3 separate regions of the Homo sapiens genome follow, and all the other regions are linked to region 3. The links come from fine-mapping of genetic effects on gene expression. A gene starts in region 3. Each other region holds a variant in brackets. All regions are shown on one strand. Distances are from middle to middle. Region 1 overlaps GPR39 (G protein-coupled receptor 39). Region 2 overlaps GPR39 (G protein-coupled receptor 39). Region 3 holds the start of LYPD1 (LY6/PLAUR domain containing 1).

What was found. PIP is the estimated chance that this variant, and not a neighbour inherited with it, causes the effect. A credible set is the group of variants that fine-mapping cannot tell apart.
Region 1: its variant is the best candidate, but not a certain one, in a credible set for the expression of LYPD1 in tibial nerve (GTEx, PIP 0.51).
Region 2: its variant is the best candidate, but not a certain one, in a credible set for the expression of LYPD1 in prefrontal cortex (ROSMAP, PIP 0.59).

The regions. Positions count from the first base shown.
Region 1 is chr2:132,638,029-132,643,304 of GRCh38, forward strand. The region is part of intron 1 of GPR39 (G protein-coupled receptor 39); the gene reads left to right. It overlaps LYPD1 (LY6/PLAUR domain containing 1), which reads right to left. Exons shown (of 3, transcript NM_144586.7): 3 at 5,258-5,276. Among named protein-coding and RNA genes, the nearest start is that of LYPD1, 30 kb to the right of the region's middle. The variant T/G (reference allele first, on the strand shown) is at 2,576.
Region 2 is chr2:132,599,673-132,605,015 of GRCh38, forward strand. All of the region lies in intron 1 of GPR39 (G protein-coupled receptor 39), which reads left to right. Among named protein-coding and RNA genes, the nearest start is that of LYPD1, 68 kb to the right of the region's middle. The variant G/GA (reference allele first, on the strand shown) is at 3,199.
Region 3 is chr2:132,667,510-132,672,509 of GRCh38, forward strand. LYPD1 (LY6/PLAUR domain containing 1) reads right to left here and starts at 2,696. Exons shown (of 3, transcript NM_144586.7): 1 at 2,372-2,696; 2 at 891-1,028. The coding sequence starts at 2,423. It overlaps NCKAP5 (NCK associated protein 5), which reads right to left. Exons shown (of 20, transcript NM_207363.3): 20 at 4,279-5,000. RefSeq lists an enhancer at 1,559-2,522.

The DNA of each region.
Region 1 (5,276 bases), 29 kb before region 3:
ATTGCTTTACATACTGGAGAAACATGTACAGAAAGAGGAGAAATGGAAGCAAAAAAGGAAAGGTGGGGAAAAATAAGAGGAAAGGGGAGGGAAAAAGAGACAGAGGGAGAAAGGATAGGAGAAGAAAGAAGACAGGATGAGGAAGAGCTGTGTGTGGAAATAAGTGGGACTGGCAGGACGGTTGTCTAGGAGTGGAACCAGAGGGAGGGAGTTTGGAGCTACCGTCTGCTTTGACTGTAGACACTGATGAAAATGTGATGCTTTAAAGGCTTCAGTGACAGTGCTAGGGTCCCTACAAGTGCCCACTGAGCCAGGGGCTCCACCTCAATTTATGCTTCTCTTAGACCAGTGTTCTCCAACTTGTGTGAGCAGCAGAGTCAACAGAGGGCTTGTTAACCCCAGATTGTGGGCCACACCCTCAGAGTCTCTGATTCAGGAGATCTGGGTTGGAGCCTAAGAATTTGCATGTCTAAGAAGTTCCCAGGTGGCGCTGATGCTGCTGTTCCAGGGAACACTCCTTTGAGAATTCTGTCTCAGCCGTTAAAGACTAAACCAAGGTTGGTGCTGATTTGGACGCCTCGGGTCAGACAAGGTCAGTGAGTGAGATCAACATCTCAGCTGACTTGCAGAAGCAGATTGCAAACACTAACATATAAATTGAGAAAGTGCTAAAATCTTTTATTGGATGTATTTGTCTCTTTCTGGCTCTTCATTCAACTAACCATATGCTTACTTTCCACTGGCAATTGCTATTTAAATGTCAGTTGACAAGCAGATGCTTCTCACCCTACTACATGCAAGTTAATTTATTGTCCACAAAGCCTGATGGAGTGCTCTCTAACCATGCTGGTTTCCCACTGTCCCCACCCACCCTTTTGTTGCAACCACGCTGAGCCTTGCAGCTCACAGAAGGTAAGTTGCCTTTGTGTTTCTCCATCCCCTGCTCATGCCCTGTCTCTGCTGGTGCTGCCCTTTTCCAGGCTGACTCTTACTCTCCTTAACTTTCTGTGTGAATGTTCTTGCCTGTGGGAATGTTTATCCAGCTCTTGTTGCTGCAGTGTTGTTCGGCTCAGACCATTCTCCTAGCCCTTAGAAAACCAGGCTGGGGCCACCTTGTACAGCTCAGCTTTGTATCATCAGTCCCTAGGACAGGATCCTTAATAGGCCCCAGCCATCAAGAAGCAATTGCCAAGTAAATAAGCAAAGTACAGAGAACTTGAATGGGGGGATAAAAGGGGGATAAGGGCTGGGGGCTGGTGGGGAGGTGGAGATGTCTAACCCTTGCTCACTATGGTCAGGATTAGAGAGAAATTGAAAAATAGAGACAGGAACAGGCAGGAGGAGGACAGAGCAGACATAATAATCACAGAAATCCTAAATCATCATCAACATACCCCTGCACCCTCAAGGCTTCAATGATTCCATAAAATGGGACTCCAACAGTAAGTAGAAAAGCTAATATTGGGAATTTATTTAAATTACACAAAATATCTTTGCTTGGGAGGTGATCAACTTTCCAGATATTTTGTGCTTAATACAAGCTAAGTATCCATTTTTAGTAGGTACTTATGTAAGATGGATGGACGGATGAATGGGTAGAAGAGAGATGATAGATAGACAGATGGAGTCATTGTAGGCTAGGTCACCAAGTCATGACCTGAAGTAATATTTTGTTTTAATCTTCTTTGGCTCCCTTGGGCTGGGACTTTACCTTCCTTTGAGCAGGAAACGTTCTCCAGAGTTTTGCCAAATGCCTGTTCTTGGAGGACCCGCTTCTAAAACTGAAGCAAGACAGTGCATAGGAAAGGTGTTGTATAGACATGCCACTTGCTGCATCCCATGCTGTCAATGGTCAGCACTTGAGTCTAAAGCTGGAAAAAAACCCTAAAATTACAGTTAAAAAAAAATAATGGGCTTGCTTGGCAATCGAGGGTAGAATCAATCCAGTGTTCTAAGTAGTATGACCACCCTGGCCCCAGGAGATCTTGGGCAAATCACTTAACCTCAGTTTGCTCATGTGTAAGACAAGGGAGTTACAAGGCTGGTCTCAAGGTCTCCTCTTGATCTCCTGATCTCTAATGACTCTAAGATGGAATTCTGGGGAACACACTAGTAGTTACTTTGACTTTAAAGGTTAGAGGGGAGAAAATAGAGCATGGTGTCAGATACATCAATGCCACCATGTCCCAGCCTGCAGAGCTTAATGCACTTAAGATGAAACCAAGCAGGCTGCCTCTAATGCTGTTGAAATGTCAGGCTTCAGTGCAGGGTGTTGTTAGACATCTGCATTTCTTCTGTTTTTTAAACAACATGACTCTGCCAAGAATGAATCTGTGTCATCATCTAATGGCTCTTGTCATTTTAGTGTAGTGATCAAGGAGGAAAAATGAAAGTACTTTATGTGGAAAACCAGATAAGAAGGTATTTCATAGCCCAGAGTGCAAGGCTGTCTGGAGTATAATACAGATCTATCAGTAATTCAGTTAAAACAGTTTACCTGCTTTACATGAGTGGGTTCAGTTCATTGATCTTCATTCAAGTTCACACTAAAGTTATTTAACTGTGGGCTGCACAT[T/G]ACACCACACAGACCAAAGAATTATAGATTTTTTCCAGATGTGATATACAAATCCAAATTGTGATTGCAGCCAAACATGCATTTAGTCAAATCTTTAATACACTCTATTAGGGCGTGAATAAGACTTTAAAGCTTTGTCTTAGCCACAGGGTAGCTGGGCTAGAGTAGAGCCAATCGCAAACAGCCAGAATAGAAAGTTACCTTGGGATGCAGTATTTATTCTCAACGGTGTATCATCTAGAACAACAAACTTTTTTTAATGTAAAAATGAGCAATTACTTGTCATTATAAAATGACAAATTTTACAAGGGGTCAAATTTGGTTTTCTTCCCCTGAGAGGCTCACCTCCATTACCGTGCTCACTGGTACATGTCTCATGTTTGTCATTGGCTGTACCTGTATGCCTAATGCTCCATTTTCCTAGAGCAAAACTATCTTTCAAAACACAGGAAGAAAAGCGCCAGCCATTTTCCCCACCTCCAGTTGAGGCAGGGGAAGTTTATCCCAACAGCCCTGCCAAGTAGTTGGCATGATCTGCATTATTCTAGGATAGCTAGGCAAAGTTTAGAATGAGAAATGCAAAATACATCCTTGTGTTTTCAGGATTATATAAGTTTTAAATGATTTAGAGTTCCCTTATATGGAAGGCTTTCTAGGAAAAGACTGGCTAACCCTGTTCCTCGCTATAGCTGAGAATGCATACTCAGAGATTTAATTCAGCATTGGTTGCATTGTAGTGTAACAAATACAGGCTATGTGGGAGGTTCCTTGGGGCTTCCTTGGTTTGATATAACTCTCTGGAATGTGGTTGTTAAAGGGACAGTTGGGGGAATGGGAAGAGGGGGAGCCTTGCTGCTCTGGGGAGGGGCTAGGAAGGATTCTTTTAGTGGGTGCTGTCCAATACTGTAGACACTAGCCACATGTGTCTCTTCCCAACTGAGGCATACTGTAAGAGTAAAACCTATACTGGGTTTCAATGACTTAGTATTAAAAAATGTAAGACATTTCATCAATAATTTTTATATTGATTGCATGTTGAAATTACATGTGAAATAATTATTTTGGGAGTGTATCGGATTAAACAGCAGTATTAAAATTGTTTTCACCCATCTCTTTTTCTCTTTGAATGTGGCTGCTAGAAAATTTAAAACTACATATATGGCTCACATTCTGTATTTCCAGTGAACAGCACTGTGCTATATCCATTTTACATGGTGGAATTATGGTGTTTACTTTCTTGCTTGTGTTTCTGTATTTTTCAAACTGAAAGTATGAATAGCAAACAATATTGTGTTTTGAGAAAAAAATACACAGCATGGATTTTGGAGTCTGGCAAAGATGTGTCCTAGCTATTGCACTTGGGCAACTAACTTTCTCTGAGCCTGCACTTCCTCATTTGTTAAATTAAGAGAATAACTATTTTGACCTCACCAGGTCAAAGCTCTCCAGGTTGTTGTCAGGAGTGAGAAATGCATGGGAAATTAGCAGAGTGCTTAGCACAGAAACTGGCTTAGGAAAAACTCAGTAATAAATATTCTGCATTATTATAGGTTATTTCAAAACACCCATCTGGTGCACAATATGAAAATCTCTGCATTTCTAATTCAGGTCTTTGTCTCTCTTGTTCTACAAGTTTGTTCTTGCTATTATATCTACCTACTTTTACACCCAGAAAACCAAACTTCCCCTTCTTTGCCTCATCATTGTGACTCTGAGTTGGTTTTCTGTTACTTGTTCACACTGAGCTTCTTCCCACTTATTTTTGACTTCAGAGCAGGAATTTTATCCTGGCTACAAACAACACCACAACTCTTTATCTACCCCTGCCTTTGCCTTGTACCTGGAGGCTGGGTCTTGCTTTTTACTGAACTCTGCTGCTTTTGATGGGATGATCAGTGAAGGACAGTTGACACCAGGCCAGTGCATGTGGGAAGCTGTCAGAAGAGTAAGGGTCATGTAAACAACAGATCAAGAGAATGAGGAGCAAAGACAGGGCAGAAGAAAAGCAATGTTATCATTCTCTCCCCTTGTTTCACAAGCCTGCCTTATCTTCTCATTGCCTTTGTCTGTTGGCTTTAAAAGCTGTGCTATGTTCAGCTCATGGTTAGTACAAGGTGTTTCTAATTGCCTTTCTGGATTCTCACCGCCTGAAGTACAACCTCCCATGGTGTAGCACAGTTCACATCTAAAACCGTGCAATTTCCATATTCTGGGCAATAACTCCTCAGATGAAGATGGTTGTACATGTTCTCTGAAATTCAGTGACAGGAAAGAGAAAAAAAATGCAAAACTTTGTGAAAATATGTGGCTTCCTCAGGTATGGTCTTTTTCCTAGTTCTTTCACAATTAATGAGATGAGCCTCTCAATCAGAGCTGGATGAGATGCAAACAAGGAGCAGGAACTTAAGATGAATTTGGAATAGCACAAGTGGCTGGGAACACCTGTACTCCTCGAAGTGGGAGAAAAGTCCCGGATTTCTTATGTATTTTTTTAAAATCAGAAATTTTTGTTGTTGCTGTTGTTGTTCCTATCCAGCATCTGTAACTAGGTGATTCAGAATAAACTCTTGAATTAAGATGGTATTTTTTTAACCATTTTTTCATCAGATCAATATGTTAGTTCACTTATTTTAGTTTTAGATTTACTGGATGTTCTCAGGATAGCAAACTCAAAGGAAAAAATAAACAAATTGGCTTATAT
Region 2 (5,343 bases), 68 kb before region 3:
TGCAGTGAAATTAAGCATGGGAGCAAGGTGTGGTAGTGAGGGCGCTGGTGAATTGCCGCCATCTCTGATTTCTAGTGGGTTGAGGAGTGCAAGACCATCATGGCGTGTCAGCAGACCATTCAAGCTGGTAAACTGAGGTTGGGATCCAGCTCCTCCAACTCTCCTTGATAAGCTAGACCTGCCGTGGATGTGATCTCCCCAGGAAAATGACATTTGGAGTCCCTCTTAATAACACCACAGATCTGCTCATGGATGAGATATGAGTGAAAGAATCCTTCTTAGATACTGGGTGTCTACCCGCAAATGCTGTCCATCCACATTGACTCTCCACATCATAGCTCAGTCTCCCAAAGGGGGCCCATCCATGCTTGTCTATACTTTGGAGGTTACCATTATCTTGGCTACGCAGAAGCCCTATGAAAAAGTAATCACAATCTGTATAAATACATGAATATTAAACAAAATGTCCCTGAACAACCAGTGAGTCTATGAAAAATTCAGGAGGAAATCAAAACATTTCTCGTAATGAATGAAAATAGAAACACAATATACAAAACCTATGGGATACTGCAAAAACAGTGGTAAGAGGGAAGTTTATGGTAATAAGTGCTTACATTTAAAAAGTAGACAGATTTCAAATAAACAACCTAACAATGCACCTCAATGTACTAGAAAAGCAAAAACAAAACAAACCTAAATTAGTAGAAGGAAAGGAAAATAAAGATGAGAGCAGAACTAAACAAAATAGAGGAAAAAATACAAACAATGAATGAAACATTTTTTAAAAAGATAAAATTGACAAAACATTAGCTAGACTAAAAGAAGGACTCAAACCAGAAATGAAAAAGGAGACATTACAACTAATATCACAGAAATACAAGGGATCATTAAAGACTATTATGAACAACTACATGCCAACAAATTTGAAAATCTAGAGAAAATAGATAAATTCCTGGACACATATAACCTACCAAGATTGAAATAAGAAGAAATAGAAAACCTGAACAGACCAACAATGAGTAACAAGATTGACTCAGTAATAAAAAGTCTCCCAACAAAGAAAAGACCAGGACTGGATCACATTATTTCTGAATTCTACCAAACTTATTTTGTTGTTGTTTAAAAAAAAAAATCAATAGCTTTAGGGGCACAAGTGGTTTTTGTTTACATTGGTGAATTGTACAGTAGTGAAGTCTGGGCTTTTAGTGTACCTGTCATCTGAATACTATACATTGAACCCAATAAGTAATTTTTCTTCTCTCACCCTCCTCCAACCTTCCCTCCTCTGCATCTCCAGTGTCCAGAATATGCCCCTGCATATCCATAGTTTAGCTCTTGCTTGTAAGTAAGAACATGTGCCCACCAAACTTTTAAATCAGAACTAACACCAATTCTTCTCCAACTATTTCCCCAAAATTGAAGAGGCAGGAATTCTTCCTAATTGATTTTATGAGGCCAGGATTTACCCTGATACCAAACCAGACAAGTACACACACCTCTAGGTGAATATTCTTGATGAACATAGAAGCAAAAATCCTCAACAAAATACTAGCAAACCAAATCTAACAGCACATCAAAAAGATAATACACCCTGATCAAATGGGATTCATTCCAGGGACGTAAGGATGGTTTAACACACACAAATCAATAAATGTGATACACAACATCAAGAGAATGAAGGATAAAAACCACATGGTCATTTCAATAGATGCAGAAAAAGTATTTAACACAATTTAACATTCCATCATGATAAAAACTCTAAAAAACATTAGGTATAGAAGAAACATACCTCAACATAATAAAAGCCATATATGACAGTCCCACCGCATATATCATACTGAACTGGAACAAGACAAGGATGCCCACTTGTACCACTCTTTTTCAACATTGTATTGAAAGTCCTCACCAGAGTAATTAGATAAAAGAAAAAGCATATACACTGAAAAAAAGGCAATCAAATTGTCCCTCTTTGCAGACAACATGGTCTTACATATAGGAAAGCCTAAAGACTTCACCAAAAAACTTAGAAATGATAAACAAATTCAATAAAGTTGCAGGATAAAAACATGCAAAAATCAGTAGTGTCTTTATACACCAATAACGACCTAGCTGAAAAAGAAATCAAGAAAGCAATCTCATATATAATAGCTATGAAAAATAGTTAGAAATGCATTTAACCAAAAAGGCTAAAGATATCTGCAATGAAAACTACAAAACACTGATGAAAGAACTTGAAGACAAAAAAATTGGAAAGATAACCCATGCTCATGGATTAAAAGAATATTGTTAAAATGACAATACTACCCAAAGCAAGCTACAGATCTCTATCAAAATACCAATGACATTCTTCACAGAAATAGAAAAAAAAAAACCTTAAATTAGTATGGAACCACAAAAGACCCCAAATAGCCAAAGCAATACTGAGCAAAAATAACAGAGCAGGGAGCATCATACTACCTGACTTCAAAATATACCACAAAGCTATAGTAACCAACACAGCATAATGGTATAAAAACAGACATATAGACCAACATAACAAGAGAATCCAGAAATAAATCCATATATTTACAGCCAACTGATTTTCAGCAAAGGTGCCAAGAATACACACTGGGGAAAGGACACTCTCTTCAATAAATGGTGCTGGGAAAACTAGATATCCAAATGCAGAAAAATGAAACTAGGCTCTTATCTCCTACCATATACAAAAATTAATTCAAAATTGGATAAAGATTTAAATAAATGCAAGACCTGAAACTATAAAACTACTAGAAGAACACATAGGGGAAATGCTTCAGGATGTTGGTCTAGGCAAAGATTTTTTGGGTAAGACTTCAAAAGCACAGACAACAAAAAATAGGCAAATGGAACTATATCAAACTAAAAAGCTTCTGCACAGCAAAGGAAACAATGAAGTGGGTGAAGAGAAAACCTGTAGAATGGGAGAAAATATTTGCAAACTATACATCCAGCAAGAGACTAATATCCAGAATCTACAAAGAATTCAAATAACTCAAAAGCAAAAAACTGAATAATCTGATGTAAAATGGGCAAATGATTTGAATAGACATTTCTCTAAAAAAAAAGACACAAGTGGCCAATAAGTATATGAAAAAAATTCAACATCACTAATCATCAGGGAAATACAAACCAAAACCACAGAGATCAGAGACCTTTTTAGCCTAGAATGGCTTAAAAAGA[G/GA]AAAAAAAAAAAAAACAAATGCTAGTGAGATTGTAAAGGAAAGAGAACTCTGACATACTGTTGGTGATCATGTAAATTAGTACAGCTATATGAAAAACAGTATGGAGGTTTCTCAAATAACTAAAAATAGAACTACCGTATGACCCAGAAATCCCAATACTGGGTATTTATCCAAAGGAAAGGAATTCAGGTTATCAAAGAGAGATCTGCACTTCTGTGGTTATTGCAGCACTAGTCACAATAGCCAAGATATAGAATCAACCAAAATTTTTATAAAAAGATGAATGGATAAGGAAAATGTGATGTATATATGCAATGGAATACTATTTAGCTACAAAAAAATAAAATTCTCTCATTCACTTTAACATGAATGGAACTGGAAGAAGTTAAGTGAAATATCGGGCACAGAAAACCAAGTACCACATGTTCTCACTCATGTGGGAGATAAAAAAAATTGACATCATAGAAGTAGAGAATGGAATTGTGGTGATCAAGAGTCTGATAAGGGGAGGAGAGGATCTGGAGAAGTTGGCTAATGGATACAAAATTACAGCTAGAGAGGAGGTATGAGTTCTAGTGTTCTATAGCAGTGTAGGATGACTATAGTTAATGATATATCGTATGTTTTCAACAAGCTGGAAGAGTGGATTTGGAAAGTTCCCTACACAAAGAAATGAGAAATGTTTGAGGTGATAAGCATGCTAATTTCCCTGATTTGATCATTACATACTATATACATGTACTGAACTATCACTCTGTATCTCATAAATATGTACAATTATTACATGTCAACTAAAAAGAGGAGAAAAGGTGATCACAAAGGGTGTACATTTGTGGGCGTGCGTGTGCGAAATGGGTTACTAAAATCCACTGAAGTCAGGAGCTATTCACCAAAAGCTGAAAATGTCAACATTCTTTTTAAGAAACCATTTTCATGCCTCCAGCCTTTGAAGGACTCAAGGCCACTGACTTATGCTAAGGACAGAAAAGACACTGTGTTATTTAGGCCTGATTTTTAAACAATGCATTATAGTGATGGCAGAGTGCAGGGTGTGGGGAGTGGGAGGGACAGGAAAATGTATGTGCACATTTGTGGATGTGAACATGTGTGTGTTCATGTGTGTTTGTGCTGACTGTGGAGGTTTGCATAAATATACTTCACAACCCAACCAAGGACTCCTACCTCCAAGATCCTTTTCCTTAACCGAGACATGCTTGCCCTACTGTGAGTCCCAGGTTGTTCCAAGCATGTGTGAGATAACCTATCCCACATGAGAAGGTCAGGTCTGGCTCTCAGTTCTGTACACCACTTCACAAGGTCACTAGTCTTGTCATTTTCTTAACTTTCTCCTTCTGTCTTCCCTCAGCAGGCAACTCATATCTGGGCACATGATAGATGTCTATCCCCTTGCCAGAATGATTTAAAAAAAAAGAAAGGCAAGTTCTTTGTTTAAACTACCGAAGCTCTGAGAACTGCCTATCAGAAGCCATGGCTGTGGAGGGTATTCATTATCACCAAAGAAATCTTTGAGTTCTGAGCTATAAGGGCATAAAAGACACTGGCCTTGGCATCACACAAGCCAACAGACCTGGGGAGAGAATACAACCTCTACACAGAAGGATCCAATTAAACACAGCATACAGTCCCATGCTGGGTACTGCAGACAAAAAGACGGTTATGACTTGTCTCTTGAGAGGTCTGCTATCTGATGGCAGAGACAGACTTTTAAACAACTAACCATAAAGCAGAAGGATAAGTGCTGCTTTTATAGAAGGTTATATATAAAGTCTTATGAACATATAAAAAGGAGGCCAAGTCATTCTATCTGCTCTGCTTAAGGCATATATCTCAGAGAAAGGGACATTTGAATTAGACTTTGCAGACAAATAGGAGTTTGCTAGGTGAGAAGCAGCAGGAGAGAGTTTTAGGCAGAGAGAACTGAAAGAAGTAGAAACATGAAAAATGCATGGTGCTTGGAAAGTAAGGAGCAGCTTAATGTGGCTGAAGCTGAGGATACGTGGATGGCTGGATATAGAAGGTAAGAAATGAAACTACATAACAATAACAATGAACACTTACTGAGTACTTACCACATGTCAGATATCATACAAAGTGCTTTACATATTCATTTACTCTTTATAAGA
Region 3 (5,000 bases):
ACAGAACTAAAGGAAGTGGGGGCTTTGGTTCATTCACTATCAGCCATCAAGTTATGCTATTTCCCATCCTTTTAATATCCTTAAAATGGCAAGGTCTGTGTTTATGGTTTTGACCTTGAAACTGAAGTAACAGCTCTACCTATTCTCCCAAAGTTCCAGATATACTTTGGGGAACTTTGACTTCTGATAAGACAGCTGGGGTAGGGGGTGAGGAGAGGGTTGGAAAGTTCTACCTCAGTGAGAAGATTCTTGGTCAACTAGAGGGAGTGAGGGCTATCCCACAAGACCTCCCCTTCCCCCACAGGATGCTCAGGACTTCTTCTCAGCTAGCCAGCAGCTAAGCTGGTAGGGCTGAGAACGGCATTCCTTTGAAAGATCTTGGCAATTTGTGCCTGGAAGTTGATGCATTAGTTCTAAAATTAAACAAAGATCCTGTAGTGTTCTTCAAGGAAATATGGTGTGCCTCTATGACAAAACACATTTTTCAAGCTCTGACCTCTGGGAGCTTCAACTAGCTCCATATTTCAGGCTGACAATGCTCACAGGCTACTGTCTAGTTGCCCAAGCCAGGGCTGGTTAGCCATATATTTTCTACCTCCATCAGCTTTTAGCATAGGGAGGTGAAGGGAGTAAATAAAAAGAGGAGAGCCACTAATTTACATGCACTTCCCCTCCCAAGACCCTTGGGGAGAAGCCTTGGTAATTAACTCTAATGAGATTAAAGTAACTTGGAACTCTTCATTTTCCCAGCACTGTAAAACTAAATCTGCGATAACCAGTGTGTGGGCATTAAATCAAAGTCAGTCCTTTTTCCTGCTATTTAATGGCCCCCTCACTCCCACCCCACAGCCCAGGCTTAAGAGCGAGGGGGAGGGCTGCCAGGCTCTTACCGGCACTTTGCTCCATCACTTCTTTCTGACACATGTCTTGAACGTTCACCGTGCAATTCACAATGAACTCGGGGGAGGAGCAGTCGTTGTTCAGCTGGAATTCTTCACACTGGTAGCACTGGATTTGCAGCGCAAAGCCTGCGAGACAGACGCAGTCGGGTTCAGATCCGGCCCCCACAGAGCCCACCCCGGAAATCACGACCATCCCACGCCTCAGAGCCAGGCGGCTCCCAGCCTCTGGCAGGCTTAGACCACTCCTGGGTCTCCGGGTAGGGCTGGATGTGGCTGACACCGGCAGGGGGCGGCGCGGGTACCTAGGGTCCTACGGAAGAAAGTGGAATAGTGCCCGCCACCCCTGGACCCCGGCTCTAGACACAAAGCGCCCATCCATTACCACCCCAGGCCTTTTCCCAAGAAGTTGAAGGGAGGGTGGGGACGGTACCACCGCAAGAGTGAAGTAGCTCTGGAGATGTGCGTTAGCTCCAGCCTAAGCCAAAGGATTTGCCTAATTGCTAATTGGTTACAAATTACTTAATTACTATTTTGGCACCATTCGTGATTACATTCGCAGACGTCTTTTTAGTTTTTATTTATTTAATTTTTAAAGTCAGCGTTTCTGTGCCAGGGCTCTGAGGATCCCTGAGCGACCACCTGGGAACAACTTGGGTGGAGGTGCCAGACGCCAAGCGCTGCTGCGCCGCAAGTCCCCGAGCCCGGGTCGGCGGCCCTTCTCCGGGGCCGTCCCCGCGGCGACCCGAATGGCCACAGAGGGTGGGAAAGGGCGTTTGTGAGCGCGCGCACCCTGGATCCCCGACCCCGCAGCCCTTTCTTCCAGGCCCCGGCTTTCAGGACAACCGTTCGACTAGGGTCAGTGGTCGGGGTTCCAGCTCTGCAGAGCTTAGTCGGGAGCCAGTAGGCGAACTGGAGAGAGGACGCGAGACCTTTGCGCCTCTGGACGCTTCGGCCTGGCTGTTCTCGGTGTACGCGCTCCTGTCTAGACCCAACTACCCACGCTCCCGCAGCCCCACATCTATCGCACTCTGAGCGCAGCAACCCAGCTTCAGCGTGGCCGCAGGCTGCCTCGCGCATCGCTCACCTGTCGGCGGCGCCACTCCCACGGGGTGCCGGAGGCGCCAGACAACTTGGCAGGGTTCGGGAGATGTCGCCCCCTCTCCCTCGCCCAGAACCCAGCACCGCTCGGACCCTCCCTCCTCTCAAGCCCAGCTTCTCCCGACGGTGCAGCCGGACAAGCTGCAGCCCGGAGTCCCGCAAACCCGCCGCTCCCCGCTCTCCTCCTGCAGCGCGGGACTTGGACACTTTCCCAGCCTCGCGCCCCGGGGCACCAGTCGCGGCCGCCAACTCCCGCTGGGCAGCCCCAGCGCAGGGCTGGCCCCGAGGTGGGCGCCTTGGGGGCAAAAGGGCTGGCGGGTAGATGGATTGTGCGCACCTGGCCTCGGCTGCTGGCCTCTGGGTATTCTCACCTGGAAGCAAGAACAATCCGCAAAAAGTTGCCGCGATGCCTAGGACCCACATTCTCCCGGAGTCCCGGGGCCGGGAGAGGGCAAGCGCATCAGAGGAGGCGACAGCAGCGGAGGCTGCCCCGGCTGCAGCGGCTGTGGCTGCCGAGGCTGCTGGGGCCCGCGCTGCTGCCGCGGAGACGACGGTCGTAGCTTAGAGGAGCCGCAGGTGCCGCTCGCGGAGCCTGCATCGCCCGCGCTCGGGCTCCCGGCTGCGGGTCTCTGCTCCTCCCGCTCGCGCTCCCGGGCCGAGCACCGCGCCTCCGGAGTTGGCGGCTGAGACTGAAGGAACTACTGGCGATCGGGAGCACCCACAAAAGTCTCGCCTTTTCTCCCCACCTCCCACTCCAGGCATCACGTGACGGCTGCCGAGTTGGGGTGGGGGTGGCGGGCGGGGAAGGCTGGGACGGTCGCTTCACATCCCCACCCCCTTCCTGTCTTCCTCTTCTCCCGCCTCCGCACGTTCCTGGGAAAGGGGCGCCGGGGGGCGGGAGAGAACTGGTAGTTTTCTGAGATGGGGAGGTTGGGGGAGCGGCGAGGAGGGCGCAGCAGGTGCCGTGGGGACCTGCCGGGTGCGGACTAGGGTCTGAGGACTGCGTGCCCGGCTGGCCCTTCGCACATAGGAAGGCAGCCTCCCCACTCCACGTCCTCTGCGCCTTCCAGGACTGGTCGGTACCCCAGCGACTGGGTCCAGCCCACACAACTGAGGCTGTCCCGCTGCGGGCCGCGGGAGCCTGGCGCCCCGGGAGGCTGACAGGAAGGGCGCGCGTTCCCGTGCGCCTGGCAAAGTTCCACGCCCGCAGGCTCCGTAGGGTGTCCTGTGCAGCTGTGCCCCCTCTTCCTCCGCGAAGGCCTTCTGTCAAGAACCAGCTCGGCGTGGCCAATCTGGGTGGGGGTGTGGTGGGGACACTGCCTTAACTGTCTCACTTGCCCGGGCCGCCCTCCCTTCTCCCGCCTGCGCGCACCGCTGGAGGGTGCATTGACACCGCCCTGGTCGCCTAGCCTAGGAGAACGCCGTCCCGGGGACACCTGCCGTGAGGTCCTACCAGAAAGCAAATCAGGGTGAGGAAGAGGGTTGTTCTCCTCCATTCCTTGTCTCCCAAACGCCAGCCGGCTCCATTCTGCTTTCCCCAAAGCCACCGATTATTAGCACATACTCCCACGTCCTCTCCTGAAAGGCCATCCCAGCCTCGGACTCGGCCTCTGGCTGCTCCCCACACCCCTCAAATTCGTCTTCTTTCCGCAAAGTCCAAGTGACCCACCTTGCGGACTCCCGGGGATGCCCCGGTGCTATCTTCGCCTTCCTTCCCGAGCCTTGCAGCAGGTGGTGCGGGAGACCGCTTGCCCGCCGGAGTGCGTTGGTGCCCCCGCCCCCAATCCGCACATTCCCATCCCCTTTCCGCACATCCTTAGGGAGCATCCATTTCCGTGGAAATCGCCTCCTAAGCTTTAGCTCCTCTTCACCCTTTTCTCCCCCGGCCACTTCTGGGGGCAGCTCTCTCACGCCGGGACGCTGATCATTTATTTCTGCATCCTCCCAGCAGAGCTGGTCTGTAAAGGGGCTTAAATGACTTTCTTTGTAATTCCTCTGCAGAGATCGTTCCATATCTGCCTCAGGCTCCTTCTCTCCCTCCCTCCCTCCCTCTCCCCCTTCTTTCATTTCTATTTGGTTAACCCCTCGGGGAGACTGAAATGCTTTGACCATTACTCACCTGTCTGCAGACTCTGATCTTACAATTGGCTAAATTACTATCTCTGGAGCAAAAGGGCCAATTTATTTATTCCTTCTGGGAACCCATTGTAAGAGCACGTGTGAGTCATGATTCAAGTAACTGACTGGGCCAAAAGGTCCTTGAGCAAGTTATTTTCTGTTTTCAGAGGGTGCAAATGTGATATAACTTTTATTCAGAAAGGAAACAAAAAGATTTTTTAAAGTCTGAAAGACAAGGACATTTTACATAATTTTCATTTAAGATAAAATAAAACAAATTGCACAAATTAACCAAATAACACTGATCATACAATACTCTTTAAAGAAACAATTATGTGCTAAAGTAGCCATATAGATCCTAAAAATATTTCTATTGGGCCTAGTTTACAAGCTCCTGTACATAAGTAATTATAAATAGTTCACATCTAGAAAAAATACACATAACCTTTAAAATAGAATTTATCCTTACATATAAACAGTCTTTGTAGAAAAAAAAGGATATTAAAAAGAATTCTTCGTAGCACCATTAATTTTATTTTTAAAAGTGAACATTGCAAATAGAAATTTGTTTTCATTTTTAGAGTGCCCAGATTTTAATAAAAAGAGCAAGAAGATAAAAATCAAATAATATTCAGGATCATAGAGAAGCACTAAGTAAAAGACAATCTAAAGAAATGTCTGGAAGGAAAAACTGGTATTGGGAATAGAATTCGGTCATTTCTGATACAATGTCACACTCCCAATCAGTGTCCACACTTCAGGACCCTTTTCATTTTTCAGCAGAAGCAGAATGACACTTATTACTATCACCTGAATCTCTGGCAACGAATCTGAAATTACACTAAAATGAACATTTCCATCAAATTGAGATTTGTGAGATGG